Regions from separate parts of the Homo sapiens genome. Here regions 2, 3 and 4 are each linked to region 1. The links come from fine-mapping of genetic effects on gene expression. A gene starts in region 1. Each other region holds a variant in brackets. All regions are shown on one strand. Distances are from middle to middle.

The links. PIP is the estimated chance that this variant, and not a neighbour inherited with it, causes the effect.
Region 2: its variant is fine-mapped to the expression of VPS53 in B cells (Schmiedel 2018, PIP 0.94).
Region 3: its variant is fine-mapped to the expression of VPS53 in whole blood (TOPMed, PIP 0.95).
Region 4: its variant is fine-mapped to the expression of VPS53 in whole blood (TOPMed, PIP above 0.99).

Annotation. Positions count from the first base shown.
Region 1 is chr17:712,683-717,682 of GRCh38, reverse strand. VPS53 (VPS53 subunit of GARP complex) reads left to right here and starts at 2,844. Exons shown (of 22, transcript NM_001128159.3): 1 at 2,844-3,060. The coding sequence starts at 2,974. RefSeq lists an enhancer at 2,303-2,372.
Region 2 is chr17:500,958-506,218 of GRCh38, reverse strand. No RefSeq gene overlaps it. Among named protein-coding and RNA genes, the nearest start is that of VPS53-AS1, 19 kb to the left of the region's middle. The variant TTTTTTTG/G (reference allele first, on the strand shown) is at 2,631.
Region 3 is chr17:555,715-560,714 of GRCh38, reverse strand. VPS53 (VPS53 subunit of GARP complex) reads left to right here. Exons shown (of 22, transcript NM_001128159.3): 15 at 142-289. LOC124903891 (a long non-coding RNA gene) reads right to left here and starts at 4,831. Exons shown (of 2, transcript XR_007065571.1): 1 at 4,696-4,831; 2 at 4,375-4,499. RefSeq lists an enhancer at 1-714. The variant A/G (reference allele first, on the strand shown) is at 2,452.
Region 4 is chr17:525,354-530,353 of GRCh38, reverse strand. All of the region lies in intron 19 of VPS53 (VPS53 subunit of GARP complex), which reads left to right. The region is part of intron 1 of VPS53-AS1 (VPS53 antisense RNA 1); the gene reads right to left. Among named protein-coding and RNA genes, the nearest start is that of VPS53-AS1, 5.1 kb to the right of the region's middle. The variant A/C (reference allele first, on the strand shown) is at 2,230.

The sequences.
Region 1 (5,000 bases):
ACATGCAACAACATGGATGAATTTTAGATACTTTATGACAGATGAAAGAAGCCAGACTGAAAAGGTGTCATACTGTATGATTCCATCTATATGATATTCTGGAAATATCAAAACTATAGGGACAGGCCAGGCGTGGTGGCTCATGCCTGTAACCCCAGCACTTTGGGAGCCTGATGCTGGCAGATCACCTGAGGTCAGGAGTTTGAGACCATCCTGGGCAACATGATGAAACCCTGTCTCTACTAAAAATACAAAAATTAGCCAGGTGTGGTGGCACGTGCCTGTCATCCCAGCTACTCAGGAGGCTGAGGCAGGAGAATCGCTTGAACCCGGGAGGCGGAGGTTGCAGTGAGCTGAGATTGCACCACTGCACTCCAGCCTGGGTGATAGAGCGAGACTCCGTCTCAAAAAAACAAAAACAAAAACAAAAACTATAGGGACAGAAATCAAGTCAGTGGTTGCCAGTGGATGGGGTGAGGCAAGAGGGAATTTGGGGGAATGAAATTGTCCTATAACTAGATTGTGGTAGTAGTTACATGGTTATATACATTTATTTATTTTGTTTTATTATTGTTTTCTTATTATTTGTTTGTTTGTTTTGAGATGGAGTCTTGCTCTGTCACCCAGGCTGGAGTGCAATGGTGCAATCTTGGCTCACTGCAACCTCCACCTCTCGGGTTCAAGTGATTCTGTGCACCACCACGGCCAGCTACGTTTTGTATTTTTAGTAGATAGAGACGGGTTTTACCATGTTGGCCAGGCTGGTCTCGAACCCCTGACCTCAAGTGATCTGGCAGCCTCGGCCTCCCCACGTGCTGGGATTATAGGCGTGAGTCACCATGCCCAGTCGTTTATACACATTTATCAAAACTCACTGCATCATAAATTGCAAGAGTAAATTTTACTGTATGTAAATATCTTAATTTTTTAAAGGAAAAAAAAAGTCCAAAATAAGTAGCTATAATTACCTTTTCCTTTTAGAAAAAGGCATTCATATTTTCTGAGCATGAGAGAACTACAGGCTCATTGTAGACATTTGGGAAAATGTACAAAGGATGTACATTCATCACGTGCAGAAAAGTAATATTTCCTTGCTGTGAGCTTTATTGGCACAGAATACACACAAAGCTGGGACCATGCTATGCATTTTTTAAATGAAATTATACATTTTGCTTTCTGAAATATATTGTGCATATTTTTCATGTCATTAATTTTCAAAATCATGATTTTATGAATCAATAATATTCTATGTTTACTTAAGAGACAGAGTCTCCCTTTGTGGCCCAGGCTGGAGTGCAGTGGCGCAAAGGAATCATTCCTCACTGCAGCCTCAAACTCCTGGGCTCAAGCGATCCTCAGTGGTGGGATGAGATCTAGACCCCTGATATTCAATCTCAGAAAGTCAATAATTCCCTGCCTCAGCCTCCTGAGTAGCTGGGGCTGCAGGCCTGTGCCACTGCACCAGGTTCAATGTATATTTTATTTTGTCTTTTTTTTCTTTTTTTAATGTATATTTTTTAGCATTCCTTTGTTGTTAGAAATTACATTGTTTATATAATTATTATTTGTCAATTAAAAATAAAAGAAAAAATCATACTGCTCCTATTTTTTACTTTGAGCAACTCTGATAACAACAACAAAAAAAAGTTCAGTGGGGCCAACGCGTTTCCCTCCTGGAGTTTCCCGGTTCACCTGGTGGAGCGGGTCCTCCTTGGGCTGCAATTCCCTCCTTCTTTTCAGTGTCTGCAGGAAAGGTGGTTTCACAGGGTGATCGGTGATCTGGCTTATTTGTTCCTTTGTGGGGGTAAGGGCTGGGCACCTCACTATTTCCTGTATTACCAGCTTGAATTTACATCGCGCTGTTAATGTTTAATCCTCTCCACATCGACGCGGGGTAGTAATTTGTTCCAAGTCACACAACTTATCAATGGTGGACTATTCAGGACTTAGATCCCGGATATTCAACCTCAGTAAACGTCTCCCCAGCTCCAGGGCGCTGCGTCATCTGGCTTTAAAAAAACGTTTCTGGCCGGGCGCAGTAGCTCACGCCTGTCATCCCAGCACTTTGGGAGGCCGAGGCGGGCGGATCACGAGGTCAAGAGTTCGAGACCAGCCTGGCCAACATGGTGAAACCTCGTCTCCACTAAAAATACAAAAATTAGCTGGGCGTGGTGGCGGGCGCCTGTAATCCCAGCTACTCGGGAGGCTGAGACAGGAGAATCGCTTGAACCCAGCAGGCGGGGTTGCAGTGAGCCGAGATCGCGCCGTTGCACTCCAGCCTGGGCAACAAGTAAGACTCCGTCTCAAAAAAAAAAAAAAAAAAAAAAAAGACGTTTCTCCCCATAAGGAGGCTGCAGTCACCTCGAAAAGCTTCTGCGCAGAGCCCGGCGCACGGGGAATTTCTATCGAGTGGGCACTGTCCCGTCCTACGAATGTCCTTGGCGACATCGCCACTCGCCAGCTGGGATCACGTCGCCCCCGTGGCCGGGGACACCCGCTGCCACTGACCGAGGGGGCCCCGGGAGCTGAGAGGTCGCCGCTGCGCTGCCCGCGGAGGCTGTGGGCTGCGGTTGGCGACGCCGCAGGGCTGACTTTCATCCGGGCGTCCTGCTGGAGGCCAGACCCTACCCCAACCTCGGGGTCCTCAGTGCGGGGCGCGCCTTGGGGAGGGAAGAGGCCCCGCCCATCCTAAGGACGCGCTGAGGCCACGCGGGGCCGCCGGGATACTGCGTTGCCCGGGAGACACCTGACGTGACAGGAACGCCGCCAGTCTCAGTCCGCCGTGATCCCACAGTTCCCCGGTCCCGGAAGTGCCCTGGCCTGCCGGAAGTGCCGGAGCGGCTGACAGAGCGGCTGACGGAGCCGGGCTCACCAGGTCGCTGCCGCGAGGGAGTTGCTGTGCTGGGGCCTGGGTGGCGGCTGGAGGCCTGAGTTGGGCTCGCGGCGGGGGTCGGCAGGGGGCCGGGTGGCGGAATGATGGAGGAGGAGGAACTGGAGTTCGTGGAGGAGCTGGAAGCCGTGCTGCAGCTCACGCCCGAGGTGCAGCTGGCCATCGAGCAGGTAAGCGTTCCGCCCCTCAGGAGGGGAAACGGGAGTGCGGGAGGGGAGACGGCAGCTCCGGGCGCTGGGGAGGCCGCGGCGGGTGGACGGAGGGCCGGGGGCTCGCGGCAGAAGGGAAAGTGGAGGTGGGGAGGTGGTGCGGGTGAGAAGCGGTTTCTGAATCAGAAGGAAAGGAAAGAGAACCCTTTCTAGGCTTTGATTGTCTTTGGCGAGGGCTGGGGGTTCTGGTGGTTTTGGGGAAAGGAATTGTGCGCTTAGAGAGGACGACGCTAGGAGAATGCAGGCCTTGGGTGCCATCCTCAGATTCTGGGGACTGTGGGGGCTTCATGCATTTACCAGACTCGTGCCAACGCCCCGGTTTTGCAAGCTGGCACCTCGTGAGTGGCTTGGAACTGGGGGAAGGGAATGACTTTAATTTCTGAAGCGGACGGCAGAGAAGAGAGAAAGTGTTGAAAAATGACATCGTTACCATTCTTAAAAGGTTGAGAATTCCTACCGTTGAATAGTTTGGGTGAGGTTGGAGAATACTCCCAAGGGGCCTCTTTTCCCTTCAGGAACTTTTTTTTTTTTTTTTTTTTGAGACGGATTCTCGCTCTGTCGCCCGGGCTGGAGTGCAACGGCACGATCTCGGCTCACTGCGACCTCCGCCTCCCGAGTTCAAGCGATTCTCCTGTCTCAGCCTCCTGAGTAGCTGTGATTACAGGCGCACGCCACCACACCCGGCTAATTTTTTTTTTTTTTTGGGGTAAAGACGGGGGTTTCACCGTTTTGGCCAGGATGGTCTCGAACTCCTGAGCTCAAGTAACCCGCCCGCCTTGGCCTCCCAAAGTGCTGGGATTACAGGCGTGAGCCACCACGCGCGGCCCTGCCTGCAGGAACTCTTGCCTTTGCAAGTTTATTGAGTTTTTAAGGCTAATGATATTAGAAATAGTGATTTTTTTCTTTTCTTTTTTTCTTTTTTTTTGTTTTCTGAGACGGAGTCTCGCTCTTTCGCCCAGGTTGGAGTGTAGGGGTGCCATCTCGGCTCACTGCAACCTCCGCTTCCAGGTTCAAGTGATTCTCCTGCCTCAGCCTCCTGAGTAGCTGGGACTACAGGCAACCGCTACCATGCCTAGCTAATTTTTGTATTTTTAGTAGAGACCGGGTTTCACCATGTTGGCCAGGCTGGTCTTGAACTCCTGACCTCAGGCTATCCGCCCGCCTCGGCCTCCCAAAGTGCTGGGATTACAGGTGTGAGCCACTGCACCCGGTCAGAAATAGTGATTTCTAATACTGCAGGGTATTGCTCCTGATAAACGGAGAAAATCTCCCTTAAAGGAATTGTCATGAAGTTATATGATTTAAGAAAGGGATTTATGATTGAGGAAATGGACAATTCCATTATGCCTTATTTAATGACCCCTGGGAAACTTTTTTTTTTTGAGATAGGGTCTTGCTCTGTTGTCCAGGCTGGAGTACAGTGGCATAATCGTAGCTCACTGCAGCCTCGAACTCCTGGGGCTCAAGTGATAACCCTGCCTCAGCCTCCCGAGTAGCTGGGACTACAGGTGCATTCATTGACGCTTCGATGTGTGTTTTTCCAGTAGTGGTTGGATTACTTATACAACCAACTTTGTCCTAGCCTGAGAACGCCAAACCATTGGGCAGGAAGCTTTTAGTGTTCCGGCCACACGGCTCCACCACTTACCTCCTTTTGCCAGAAAAAGACATAACATTTCTGTTGCTCTTTGGACTAGTGGGCTCTCATGGAAGAAAAGAATAATGCAGTCAGTTACTGTTTGGTTGACAGGTATCAGAAAAGCACATTTTTGCTATTTCTTTTGTTTGTTTCAACAGCTTTTGGGGTACAGGTGGTTTTTGATTACATGGATGAATTACATAGCGGTGAATTCTGACATTTTTCCTATTTTGTAAGAATAAGTTTGAGTGATAGTATAGCA
Region 2 (5,261 bases), 210 kb after region 1:
AGGTCACCAATGCTCTTCTAGAAAGTCAGCTTCCATCTCAACCACCGTCCTGACCCTGCTCTCGAAGGTCACCAATGCTCTTCTAGAAAGTCAGCTTCCATCTCAACCGCTGTCCTGACCCTGCTCTCGAAGGTCACCAATGCTCTTCTAGAAAGTCAGCTTCCATCTCAACCGCTGTCCTGACCCTGATCTCGAAGGTCACCAATGCTCTTCTACAAAGTCAGCTTCCATCTCAACCACTGTCCTGACCCCGCTCTTGAGGGTCACCGGTGCTCTTCTAGAAAGTCAGCTTCCATCTCAACCGCTGTCCTGACCCTGATCTTGAAGGTCACCAATGCTCTTCTACAAAGTCAGCTTCCATCTCAACCACTGTCCTGACCCCGCTCTTGAGGGTCACCGGTGCTCTTCTAGAAAGTCAGCTTCCATCTCAACCGCTGTCCTGACCCTGCTCTCGAAGGTCACCAATGCTCTTCTAGAAAGTCAGCTTCCATCTCAACCGCTGTCCTGACCCTGATCTCGAAGGTCACCAATGCTCTTCTACAAAGTCAGCTTCCATCTCAACCACTGTCCTGACCCCGCTCTCGAGGGTCACCGGTGCTCTTCTAGAAAGTCAGCTTCCATCTCAACCGCTGTCCTGACCCTGCTCTCGAAGGTCACCAATGCTCTTCTAGAAAGTCAGCTTCTATCTCAACCGCTGTCCTGACCCTGATCTCGAAGGTCACCAATGCTCTTCTACAAAGTCAGCTTCCATCTCAACCACTGTCCTGACCCCGCTCTCGAGGGTCACCGGTGCTCTTCTAGAAAGTCAGCTTCCATCTCAACCGCTGTCCTGACCCTGATCTCGAAGGTCACCAATGCTCTTCTACAAAGTCAGCTTCCATCTCAACCGCTGTCCTGACCTTGCTCTCGAGGGTCACCGGTGCTCTTCTAGAAAGTCAGCTTCCATCTCAACCACTGCCCTGACCCTGATCTCGAAGGTCATCAATGCTCTTCTACAAAGTCAGCTTCCATCTCAACCGCTGTCCTGACCCTGATCTCGAAGGTCACCGGTGCTCTTCTAGAAAGTCAGCTTCCATCTCAACCACTGTCCTGACCCTGCTCTCGAGGGTCACCGGTGCTCTTCTAGAAAGTCAGCTTCCATCTCAACCGCTGTCCTGACCCTGCTCTCGAAGGTCACCAATGCTCTTCTACAAAGTCAGCTTCCATCTCAACCACTGTCCTGACCCTGCTCTCCAAGGTCACCGATGCCCTTCTAGAAAGTCAGCTTCCATCTCAACCACTGTCCTGACCCTGCTCTCAAAGGTCACCGATGCCCTTCTAGCCTGACTCACATCTGTCTTGACCCTTCTCTGGAAGGTCACCGATGCCCTTCTAGCCTGACTCACATCTGTCTTGACCCTTCTCTGGAAGGTCACCGATGCCCTTCTAGCCTGACTCACATCTGTCTTGACCCTTCTCTGGAAGGTCACCGATGCCCTTCTAGCCTGACTCACATCTGTCTTGACCCTTCTCTGGAAGGTCACCGATGCCCTTCTAGCCTGACTCACATCTGTCTTGACCCTTCTCTCGAAGGTCACCGATGTTATTCTAATCTGGCTCACATCTGTCCTGACCCTTCCTTCTCTCGAAGGTCACCGATGTTATTCTAATCTGGCTCACATGTGTCCTGACCCTTCCTTCTCTCAAAGGTTACCGATGCCCTTCTAGCCCAGCTCACATCTGTCCTGACATTTCCTTCTCTCGAAGGTCACTGAGGTTCTTCGTCTGGCTCACATCTGTCCTGACCCTTCTCTCGAAGGTCACCGATGCCCTTCTAGCCCGGCTCACATCTGTCCTGCCCAACTGCAGGATAATGTAACTGTTCTGAGCACGTTTAAGGTAGGCTAGGCTAAGCTATGACATTGGGGAGGTTAGGTGTATTAAATGCATTTTTGACTTAACAATGTAACTTACAGTGGGTTTATTGGGACGTAACCCCATCATCTGTGGAGGGGCATCTGTGTGTGAGTCCCCTCTCCCTGGAATCCTCCTTTAACTGTGTGAGTCCCCCTCTCCCTGGAATCCTCCCTTAACTCTGAGTCCTCCTCCCCGGAATACTCCTTTAACTGTGTGAGTCCCCCTCTCCCCGGAATTCTCCCTTAACTCTGAGTCCTCCTCCCTGGAATACTCCTTTAACTGTGTGAGTCCCCCTCTCCCCGGAATCCTCCCTTAACTCTGAGTCCTCCTCCCCGGAATACTCCTTTAACTGTGTGAGTCCCCCTCTCCCCGGAATTCTCCCTTAACTCTGTGAGTCCTCCTCTCTCCGGAATTCTCCCTTAACTGCTTTACTGGCTCTGGGACTTCTTAGTCTCCTTCCCCAGCTCTCCTCTCCTTCTGAGCCTTGACAGCGGCCAGGCCTCGAGGTCTTAGGCCCCCTGTTTTCATGCCAGGCTCCTGAGGACTTACCTGCCATCACAGGTGCAAACACCAGCTACACCTGAGCTCCCCCCAATTTTCAGTTCCTGTCTTCTAGCCAACTCCCATCATTAGCTTATATGCACCATCTCGAGGTAAGCTCAGCTTCCTTCCTGAATCCCCCATTTTTCTTTTTTTCTTTTCTTGTCTCTCTCTCTTTTTTTTTTTTTTTTTTT[TTTTTTTG/G]AGACAGGGTCTTATTCTATTGCCCAGTCTTGTCTCAAACTCTTGGGCTCAAGTGAGCCTCCCGCCTCGGCCTCCCAATGTGTGGGGATTACAGGCATGAGCCACCGCACCCGGCTGAATTCCCCATTTCTAAATGGCTCCACCTTCCTTTCCTAGGGCCTCAATCTCAACACCTTACTCACCCCTAACCACTCTGGCTGTCAGCCAATATGGTTAGTTTATCATAACATTTTTTTCTTAATGATTACACAGAGAACAGTCACAGAAATCAAAAGAAAATCTTGCCCCAACAAATCAAGAATGGAAGTCCCAGGAAGCCCGCACCGGCGGGTCTCGGTGTGCGGAAGCCGGAAGCCATTCTCTGCTGCTCAGGCGGGTCTCGGTGTGCGGAAGCCGGAAGCCATTCTCTGCTGCTCAGGTGGGTCTCGGTGTGCGGAAGCCGGAAGCCATTCACCCCTGCACCGGCGGGTCTCGGTGTGCGGAAGCCGGAAGCCATTCACCCCTGCACCGGCGGGTCTCGGTGTGCGGAAGCCGGAAGCCATTCTCTGCTGCTCAGGCGGGTCTCGGTGTGCGGAGTCCACTCTCCCTGGGCTCCCGGCTGGGCCTGCTCCACGCCTCTTTCCGTAGGGTTTCTCAGAAGGAGCTAAAGAGCCTGGCTCCAGCGGGTCTCTTCTCAAAACCGACGACACTGATGGCTCAGTGTGGCCTGTGCTGCTATTACCCTATAATATTGCAGTAGCAATGCTCATTTTTAAAGTACAGTGGGGCCGGGCGCGGTGGCTCACGCCTGTCATCCCAGCACTTTGGGAGGCCGAGGCGGGCGGATCACGAGGTCAGGAGTACAAGACCAGCCTGGCCAACATGGTGAAAGCCCATCCCTACTAAAGATAACAAAAAATTAGCCAGGCATCATGGCGCACACCTGTAATCCCAGCTGCTTGGGAGGCTGAGGCAGGAGAATCATTTGAGTCTGGGAGGCGGAGGTTGCAATGAGCCAAGATCGCGCCATTGCACTCCAGCCTGGGCAATAGGCGAGACGCCATCTCAGGGGAAAAAAAAAAAAATTAGCCAGTTTTGGTGGCACATGCCTGTAATCCCAGCTACTCGGGGGGCTGAGGCAGGAGAATCACTTGAACCCGGGAGGTGGAGCTTTCAGTGAGCTGAGATCATGCCAGTTCACTCCAGCCAGAGTGAGACTGTCTCAAAAAACAACAACAAAAAAAAAACCACTACATGGAAATATATCAGAAGTCCTACTCTCCTGTGAAGATTTCTCTGTATCTGTATGTGGGAAAAAGGAGATACTTTGTCAAAGGAAAAAAAAAAAAAAGAAATTAACATGAAGCAGGCCCCCCCACCTGCCAGATAACAAAATCCTGGATGCTCAGGTCCCAGGCCCCGAGTCAGCCCTGTGGAACCTGTGGGCACAAAAATTTGGGTCTTGACTTCTCAGCATCCTGAGAATTCTGTATTTTCATTCCAGAGTTGGTTGAATCTGTAGCTGCAGAACTGGCAGATGCAGAAGGCTGACTGTACATCTTGGACTTTTCCCTTGCCATGTATAGATCTACTCATTATTTTTAATGGCTGCTTGGTGCTTTATAGCTCAGCTATGCCATCATTTTTTTTCTTTTTTTTGAGACGGAGCCTCGCCCTGTCCTCAGGCTGCTGGAGTGCAATGGTGCGATCTCGGCTCACTGCAACCTCCTTCTGCCAGGTTCAAGCGATTCTCCTGCCTCAGCCTCTTGAGTAGCCGGGATTACAGGCGCCCGCCACCACGCCTGGCTAATTTTTGTATTTTTTAGTAGAGACAGGGTTTCGCCATGCTGGCCAGGCTGGTCTCAAACTCCTGACCTCAGGTGATCTGCCCTCCTTGGCCTCCCAAAGTGCTGGGATTACAGGCGTGAGCCACTTCACCCGGTCCCATCATTTATGTCATCAGTGCTATGGTTTGAATGTATATGTCCCTCCAAAATTCTTATGTTGAAAGTGAATCCCCGATGTGATAGTATTAAGATGTGGGGCCCTTAGGAGGTGGTTAAATCATGAAGAAGGGGCCTCAAGAATGGGATTATGACCTTATAAAGAGGTGCAGGGGAGCTGTGTGACACCCTGTGACTTTCTGCCTTCTGCCATGTAACAAGCAACATGGCGCCATCTTGGAAGCAAAGAGCAGCCCTCACTGGGCACGGAGTCCGTCAGCACCTGATCTTCGACGTCCTGGCCTCCAGAGCTGTAAGGAACAACGATCTACTATTTATCAATTAGTCCGTGGCATTTTATTGTAGCAGCGTGAATACACTGAGACAGCCAGTCTTCTAGCAATATAGCCAAAAGGCTGTGTTTAGTTTTTTGGCATTAGACTCACATCATCTGTGAAAATCTTTCTGCAAATGTCTTTGCTTGCTTGTACTCACATTTTTGTAGGACATTATCCTAAAATGGTTACATTTCCACTTAAAATGATTAAGGCTGGGCATGGTGGCTCACACCTATAATCCCAGGACTTTGGAAGACCAAGTCAGGCAGATCACTTGAGCCCAGGAGTTTGAGAGTGACCTGGGCAACACGGTGAAACCCCATCTCTACAAAAAATTATCCGGGTGTGGTGGTGCGCTCCTGTA
Region 3 (5,000 bases), 160 kb after region 1:
AAGGACTCATTGTATGTGAATTGATTTGGGCCATGTCCAGCCTTTACTTCCCCCTTTTCTGTATCTTAAAATAATGTAGTTTCCAGTTCAGGAAGCAAATTAGAAATTCCATGCTGACTTGTTCCTGTTCCTTTTCTTCAGAACCACAACCAGCAGTGGAGGACTGACTATCAGCAGCCTCCTCAAGGAAAAGGAGGGCTCAGAAGTAGCCAAGTTCACTCTGGAGGAGCTCTGCCTCATCTGTAACATCCTGAGCACGGCAGAGTACTGTCTGGCCACCACCCAGCAGGTGAGCCATCCTGGCTGCCCACTCACCACCTCCTTTTCCTGAACCCTCTGGGCTGCGTCGCTCGGCGAGTAAGAATATACGTCCTAACATGGCCACAGACAACCTTGGGTCAGACCAGTTGGCCTGCCACAGAGGAAAGCTCAGTGTCCAGCCATAAGGCTGCCCAGGCAGCTGTCTTACAGAAAGGCCTTGTTAAAAGAAGACTGGGCAAGAAAGTATGACTGGTCACCTCCCTGGAGTTGTGTAAGCTCCTCAAAGGGCATGACCTGTTAAAAGTAGGTCAGTAGCACTCCAACCCATATGAGAAAAGCAGTAACAAGCTTGTCTGTGCTAGGACCCAGCCTTTGGTGATGATGAGTCACAGCCAGTTATTCCATGCTCAGAAGTGTTACTAAGTTAAGCAGAATCCTTTGGGCTTTTATGTGTCTTCTGAAATTTACATGGCATTTTCAATCTGCCTCAACAAATAGCCATTGTTTGGGATGCTGACGTTTAGGAACTGGGGGACAGGAAAGGGTGATGCCTCTGCTGGAGGCCCCCACATGGCCATAGTTCAGCAACTGATGGAGCAGAAGGAAGACCCAGAATAACCTTTGATTCAGCCTTAAACATGGAATTAGAAGTCCTTTTCACACTTGGTCTGGGATTCCCCTGAGGCCAAGAGAAAGAAAGTAATTTGGAAAGGTTCTGCTCTTCTACCCACTTTGTATTTATAATTTACAGATGCCTAGACCACAAGAAGACAGTCATAAATGATAGTTCAGACAGCCCAGCTTGGAGCTCCTGTGTGCCAGGGCAGCAATATAGCAGGTCAAATAGGAAGTGTGTCTACCAAGGCCCCTCAGTGGCACATAAGCCAGCCAGAGGCAGAGGCAGCAGCACACTCTGCCTGGGGACCTGGTCATGTTGAGTTGCGAAGGTCATGACCTTCCAGGGTTTGGCCTTGGAGCCACAGAGCAGTCCGTTTAGCCCCAGGCCACTCCCCAGGTAAGATGGCACTATCTGTAAGGACCTCCAAGGCAGGGGTTCCAGAGTTCTTTCATGAAGAAACACTGTTTAACTATTTTGGGTGTGCACAGAAAGAAATACGATACATGTAAATATGCTATTTTAAAGGTAAAATAACCGTAGTATTTAAAAAAATAAAGATCCCTTTTAATCCCATCATCCTCAAATAATCATATTAGCAATTTGGGGTATTTTTTCAATTGTTATTCATAGACATAGTTTTGAATGTTACAATCTTAATTCACTGTTATATCCTTTTATTGTTAGTGTCATACATAGCATTAGCATTTCTCCTGTCATTATAATGATAGTAATAATCATAACTATCATTACAGGGTCATTATTACTATCATTGTTTATGGCCACATAATATTTCTCTTTAAGGGACTATACCATAAATTATTTATTTATTTATTTATTTTGAGACAGAGTCTTGCTCTGTCTTCCAGGCTGGAGTGCAGTGGCCATGATCTTGGCTCATTGCAGCCTCCACCTCCCAGGTTCAAGCAATTCTTCTGCCTCAGCCTCCTGAGTAGCTGGGATTATAGATGCCCATCACCATCCCCGGCTAATTTTTGTATTTTTTTTTTTTTTTTAGTAGAGATGGGGTTTCACCATCTTGGCCAGGCTGATCTCCAACTCTTGACCTTGTGATCCACCTGCCTTGGCCTCCCAAAGTGCTGGGATTACAGGTGTGAGCCCCTGTGCCCGGCCTTGTACCATAACTTATTTAGCAAGCATCCCTGATCGTTGTTTATAGTGCTTCAAATTTTGCTTTTTTTTTGAAACAGAGTCTCTCTCTGTCACCCAGGCTGGAGTGCAGTGGCACGATCTCGGCTCACTGCAAGCTCCCCCTGCCGGGTTCTCGCCATTCTCCTGCCTCAGCCTCGCGAGTAGCTGGGACTACGGGTTCCCATCACCACGCCTGGCTAATTTTTTTTTATTTTTAGTAGAGGCCGGGTTTCACTGTGTTAGCCAGGATAGTCTCGATCTCCTGATCTTGTGATCTGCCCGTCTTGGCCTCCCAAAGTGCTGGGATTACAGACGTGAGCCACTGTGAGTAGCTGGGACTACAGGCACCCGCTACCACACACAGCTAATTTTTTGTATTTTTAGTAGAGACGGGGTTTCACTGTGTTAGCCAGGATGGTCTC[A/G]ATCTCCTGACCTCGTGATCCACTCACCTTGGCCTTCCAAAGTGCTGGGATTATAGGCGTGAGCCACCATGCCCAGCCAAAATTTTGCTTTTATAGATAATCCTGGCAGGGTACAGTGGCTCACGCCTGTAATCCTAGCATATTGGGAAGCCAAGGTGGAAGGATCGCTTGAGGCCAATAGTCCAAGACCAGCCTGGGTAACATAGTGAGACCTGGTCTTTACAAAAAATTTAAAAGTTAGTTGAGTGTGGTGGTACATGCCTGTGGTCTCAGCTACTTGGGAAGCTGAGGTTGGAGGATCGCTTGAGCCTGGGAGGTCAAAGCTGCAGTGAGCTATGATCACACCACTGCACTCCAGCCTGGGTGACAGAGTGAGACCCTGTCTCTAAAAAAAAAAAAAAAAAAAAAGATAATCCTTACAAAGAATGTCTTTCTGAATATAGCATCTTAAATGTTTTGCATTAGTTTTCTAGAACAGACTCTTAGAAGTTCTAGAAATAAGTTGAAGACCATTTTGATGACTGATGATACAAGTGGCCAATTATTTTTTATTTAGTGAAAATTGTTTTTATTGATTACAAAAGTAATACATTCTTAGCACCTTTATTGTGATCTCTAAATACAATTTTCCACTAAAAGAAACCAGAGATTCCTGGAGAAATGACTAATTCCAGGTCAAGGGCAGGAAATCTACAAGATGAATCAGAACATCATGTTACACAAAAAGCAAGAAAAATATCAAAGACTATTAGTGTCATCTCAAGAGGACCCAGGGAGATATAGTGGGTTGAAGTGTCCCCCCAACCCCAAAATATGTCCAAGTCCTAGGCCTTGGGACATGTAAATGTGACTTTATCTTGGTAAATGTAATTAAGTATCTCAAGATGAGATGGTCCTGGATTTAGGATTGGTGGGGGGCCTTATCTAATGACTGTTGTCCTTAGAAAGGAGAGAGAGATTGAACACACAGAGATACAGGGAAGAAGGCCGTGAGAAGGAGGCAGAGGCTGGAGTCAGACTTCTATGAGCCAAGGAACATCAAGGATTGCCAGCAAACACCCAAAGCTAGAAGAGAGGTGTAAATAGTTTTTTCCTCAGAGCTTCCAGAAGAGTGGGGGCGCGGTGGCTCATGCCTATAATCCCAGCACTTTGGGAGGCTGAGGAGGGTGGATCACTTGAGGTCAGGAGTTTAAGACCAGTCTCGTCAACATGGCAAAACCCCGTCTCTACTAAAAGAATACAAAAATTAGCCGGGTGTGGTGGCTTCTCACTTGGCAGTCTCATTCCCCAAGCCTCAGGTCCCCGCTTCAGTATCACCTCCTCAGAGAGCCCCTCCTGGCCACCCCCCTTCAGCAGAGAGGCCCTCCTGGCCACCCCCCTTCAGTAGGTAGCTCCCTTATTCCAGCACTGCCAAATTTATTTCCTAACACCACAAAACCGAAGTTACGTCTCGGCTGGCTTACTTCCTTATTATCTGGCGCCCCCATTAGTTTTAAGTTACATGCCAGAAAGTCTACTTTGTTCACCTCTGTTCATTAGCACCAAATACAATGCCTGGTACGTAATAAGTGCTTAATAAAGATCTCTTGAAGGAATAAAAGAGCCCACTCCTGAGATAATGGCATTAACCCATGATGATGCCAGAGCCCTCATGACCTCATACCTCTCAACACTGTGGCTTCAGGGATTAAGCTTATAACCCATAAACTTTGGAGAACACAATCAAACCACAGAACGATGTTATGAATTGCTATTGTAAATAGTTTTTAAAAAACATAAACTACACTTTTAAGGATACTTTTACATTTACAGAAAAATTGCAAAGATCGTTTGTATGGTTCCCATATACCACTTACCCAGTTTCCCATATTATTAACATTGATATGAAATATTTGTTACAATTAATGAACCAATAATGATGTATTATTGGTGTTGCTTTTAAATTTTATTTTCCAATTCCTTGTTGCTCAGATTCTTTTTGTTTAATATGGGGTCTCAATCTGTTGCCCAGGCTGGAGTGCGGTGGTTTGATCACAGCTCACTGAAACCTGGAACGAAAGCGATCCTACCCTCAGCCTCCCAAGTGGCTGGGACTACACTGGGACTTCAGGCACCTGCCACCATGCCTGGCCAGTATTTTTTTATTTTTTGTAGAGATAGGGTCTCACTGTGTTGCTCAGGCTGGTCTTGAGCTCCTGGGCTCAAGTGATCTTCTTGCCTCAGCCCCCAAAGAGTTGGGATTACCGGGTGAGCCACTGGGTCCAGCCTGCTCAGATTATTAAGTCTCTGGTTTCTTCTTCCATTTCCCTTTGCCCCCTCTGCAATCTTTTCTTAAAGAAACTGTGTTGTTTGCCCTGTAGATTTTCCCAAGTTTTGGATTTTCCTGATTGCACCCACGAGTATTAATGGACATTTTACTTTGTCTCGTATTTCCCATAAATTGGTAGTTAGATGTAGAAGCCTGAGCTGATTCAGATTCTTTTTTACAGAAAACTACATCATAATGATGTTTTGTACGTCTGTCATCAAGATACATAATGTTTGGTTGC
Region 4 (5,000 bases), 190 kb after region 1:
GTGAAACCCCCGTCTCTACTAAAAATACAAAAATTAGCTGGGCAAGGTGTGGTGCGCCTGTAATCCCAGCTGCTCGAGAGGCTGAGGCAGGAGAATTGCTTGAACCTGGGAGAACTGCTTGAACCTGGGAGGTTGCAGTGAGCTGAGATTGCGCCACTGCACTCCAGCCTGAGTGATAGAGACTCCGTCTCAAAAAAAAAAAAAAAAAAAGAATATAAATTTAGCAAGGTTGCTGGCTATAAGGAAAGTGTTTTAAAATATATTTCTATATACCAGCAGCAAACAATTTAAAAATGAACATTTTTGAGTGAAATACTTTTTTTTTTTGCTGTATTGCCCAGGCTGGAGTGAGTACAGTGGCACAATCATAGCTCACTGCAGTCTCAATTCGTGGGCTCAAGCCATCCTCCTGCCTCAACTTCTCAAGTATCTGGGACTACAGGAATGTACTACCATGCCTGGCTGGCTCTTTTTTTTTTTTTTTGGTAGATATAGGGTCTGCCTCCCTGTGTCTCCCAGGCTGGTCTCAAACTCCACCCTCCTCAGCCTCCCAAAGTGGTGCGATTACAGGCGTGAGCCATGGCTCCCAGGCCTAAATGAAATCATTTACAATAACATCAGGAAACATTAAATACCTAGGAGTAAATTAAAAATGTACAAGTCTTCTACACAGAAAACTGTACAATATTAAGACACAGAATCCATAAAGACCTTTAAAATGACAGGATAGCTCATGTTCATTGATAAGAAAGACTCAAAAAGAAATACATATGGAGTCTTTCTGAGCCTGCTCTGGCTGAGGAGGCTGCCCAATAAAAAATAAATAACAATTTAAAAAGCGGCAAATTATTCCAAAATTAATCTATAGATAGAATTCAATCCTAATTACTGTATCAATTTATCTATAGATACAGTAGAATCCCAGCAGGGGTGTGTGTGTGTGTGTGTGTGTGTGAGTGTGTGTGTGTGAATTGATATGCTGATTTTAAAAGTTAGATGAAAATACAGAAGACAACAGCCAAAATAATCTTAGAACAGAATTGGAGGAGTTAAAGCTCAGGATATCAAGACTTATTGCAGCAGTATTGTAATTAGAGCAGTGTGGCACTGGCCCCAGGGACAAAGAGGCCAACAGAACAGATCTGAGCTGAGGGATAGACCCACACATGTGTAGATACTTGATTTATGACCAAAGTGGCATCATTCAAAGAGAGTCTTTTCAGTAAATAGTGCTGGGTAATTGGATATCCATATCGGAAAAAAATCTTGACCTTTGCCACACACCATATATAAAAATCAATTCCAAAGAGGATTTGGTGAAATTAGAACACTCATACATTGCTGGTGGTAATGCAAAACGGTACAGCCATTTTGGAAAACAGTTTGGCATTTACATAGAGTTACCACAGGGCCCAGCAATTATACTCCTAGATATATACCCAAATGAATTGAAAAAGGCAGGGTGCATGGTTCACACCTGTAATCCCAGCACTTTGGGAGGCTGAGGCAGGCAGATCACCTGAGGTCAGGAGTTCGAGACCAGCCTGGCCAACATGGTGAAAACCCACTTCTACTAAAAATACAAAAATTAGCTGTACATGGTGGTGTGCACCTGTAACTCCAGCTACTCGGGAAGCTGAGGCAGGAGAATCACTTGAACCTGGGAGGCAGAGATTGCAGTGAGCCAAGATTGCGCCACTGTACCTTCAGGCTGGGTGACAGGGTGAGACTCTGTCTCAAAAAAAAAAAAAAAAAAAAGAATTGAAAAAAAAATGTGTTCACACAAAAGCTTGTACACAAATATTCATAGCAGCACCATTTATAATAGCCAGAAAGTAGAAACAACTCAAATGTCCATCAGCTGATGATAAACAAAATGTGGTCTATCCATACAAGGGAATATTACTCAGCCATTAAAAGGAATAAAGTACCCATTCATGCTACAACATGGAAGAGCCTTGAAACCATGTTAAGTGAAAGAAGCCAGACACAAAAAGCCACCTATTGTGTGACTCTGCTTCTGTGAAATGTCCAGAACAGGCAAATCCGTAAAACAGAAAGTGGATTAATGGTTGGCAAAGGCTGAGGGAGGGGGAGATGGGAATGGCTGCTAATGGGTAAGGGTTTCTTTCTGGGGTGATAATGTGTTCTGAAACCAGATAATGCTGACAGCTGTACAACCTTGTGAATAGACCTTAAAAACCACTGAATTGTACACTTCCAAAAGGT[A/C]AATTTTATGGTTTTTGAATTATATCTCCATTTTTAGAAAATTAATCCCAGATGGATTATGGCTCTAAAAAATAAGGCAATAAAGCTTCTGGAAGATTTAATATAAGACAATATGTTTATGACCTTGGGTTAGGCAAAGATCCCTTAAACAAAACATTAAAAGCACTAACCATAAAAGAAAAGATTGGTTATTTTGAGTACTTAAAAGACTTTGGCCAAGTGCGATGGCTTGTGCCTGTAATCCTAGCACTCTGGGAGGCTGTGGCAGGAAGACTGCTTGAGCTCAGCAGTTTGAGATCAGCCTGGGCAACACAGCGAGACCCCATCTCTACAAAACAATTTAAAAATTAGCCAAGTGTGGCACGTGCCTGTAGTCCTAGCCACTCGGGAAGCTGAGACAGGAGGATCAGTTGAGCCAAGGAGTTCAAGGTTGCAGTGAGCTATGATTGCACCACTGCATTCCAGCCCAGGTGACAGAGTAAGACCCTGTCTCTAATCATAATAATAATTTAAAAGAGTGATGATACCAAGTGTTGGTAAGGATGTGGAGCATCTGGAACTTTCATATGTGCTGGTAGAAATGGAAGTTAGCCCAGCCACATTGGAAAACTCCTAGGCAGTTAGCCAAACATATGCCTACCCCATGATCCAGCAGTTCTACTCTTGAGTAGCTTCCACCCTAGAGAAATGAGGACTTTATGACCACCAAAGGCATGCGCACGAATGTTCACAGCAGGTTTATGAGCAGGAAACAAGCTACAGTGAGAGAGAGCAGGAGAGACGAATGTTCACAGCAAGTTTATGAAGCAGGCAACTAGCTACAGTGAGAGAGAGTAGGAGAGACGAATGTTCAGAGCAGGTTTATGAGCAGGCAACTAGCTACAGTGAGAGACAGCAGGAGAGTTTGTTGAGAGGGAAAGGAGAGCATTGACTGGACGAGAGCATGAGGAAGGCTTCAGGGATGCCAGAAGTGTGCTCTGTCTTCCGTTAGGCAGCAGGATGTGCACATGTCTGGATGTTGATCAAATGGCATACGTGGTGTTTGTGTACTCTGTGAAAGTTATACCTAATTTTTTTAAAAAGAAAAAGAAATAGAACATGTGTCCACCTTGTTCCATCCCTCCTGATAGCCTGAGCTGTCTCCCCTGTGCCACCTCATTGAAGAATTTTCTATGGTGGGACCAATATGGTTCACCTATGTGGTTTTGTTCACATGGTTCTTTGTCTTCTAGGAGTGTGGGCCTGTATCTTATTTACGCAAAATTTTCATCACTGTTGATAGTCATCATGTCCCCAAGAATTGTAGGAGGCTCCTCGGGAAGTAAAGGGCCCCTCTCAAAGATTTCCATTGCTGGGTGATCAGCCTTCACAGGCATGGCATACTGGCCACCCTTGCACCCCCACATCCCATCAACAACATTAGCCAGCCCACACTGCCCCAGAAATTATCGCTGAGGCAGAAATGAATGTGGCAATAGCCACCCCTTGCCCAATGTCTCATGCCTAAGAAGATGAATTATCAACTATTTCAAAGTTGAAAACTAGCAGATTTTCATGATAAATGGGACCTTTCTGTCTTGTCTTTGCACAGACAGCCGCCAAATCTGTCAGGCTCATTCCCGCCTTTTCTGACTGCCTTGCTTTATGTATAAAACCTGAGACCAGGGTTTTCACCTCTCAGTGTCTGGTAAAGACAGAATTTTATGGTGACTGGCCAGGGAATGAAAGTGTCATATCTCCCTGTATATGAGGGACACTAGAGAATTATGCCTGGTGCATTCAAACCCTTCCTGTCATTTAAGACTGTACAATTATTTATGCATATAATGTATCTCTGGGAAGTAGAAAAGTAGGAAATATCTCCATATGCTTTAAAATATAATGACTGATTTTTTTTTTCCTACCAACAAATGAATGCTAAGACATGGCTTTGATTTTGACAAGGCTCTCAAAATTTGCTACATGGAAGACAGAGTTGAGTCCTGAATGGTAGTCTTTAAACAAAAATTCCAGTTAATTAATGTACAGAAAATAATGTAAAAAACAGTAACTAACTACTCAGCTCAGCAAAATATGTAACATGTTTCCACATTTACTTTACATCTTTTTTTTTTTTTTTTTTTTTTTTGAGAAAATGTCTCACCGTGTTGCCCAGTCTGGAGTACAATGGCGCGATCTCGGCTCACTGCAACCTTCACCTCCCGAGTTCAAGCAATTCTCCTGCCTCAGCCTCCCGAGTAGCTGGGATTACAGGTGTGCACCACCATATCTGGCTAATTTTTGTATTTTAGTAGAGATGGGGTCTCACCATGTTGGCCAGGCTGGTCTCAAATTCCTGACCTTAAGTGATCCTCCCACCTCAGCCTCCCAAAGTTCTGGGATTGCAGGCATGAGACACCGCGCCTGGCCCATTTTTTTTTTCTTTTCTTAAGAGACAGGGTCCCACTCTGTCTCCCAGGCTGGGGTGCAATGGTGCCATCATAGCTCACTGCAACCTGGAATTCCTGGGCTTAAGCCATCTTCCCACCTCAGCCTCCTAAGTAGCTGAGACTACAAGTGTGTGCCACTGTGCCTGTCTAATCTTATTATTTTTGTTTTTGTAGAGACAAGGTCTCACTGTGTTGCCCAGGGTAATCTTGAATTCGTAGCCTCAAGTGATCCTTCTGCCTCAGCCTCCCAAAATGCTGGGATTACAGGCATGAGCTGCCACACCCTGCCTGCTTTAGATCATTTTTATGTAAAGTAAATCATTACAGTTATTGCTGAAGACC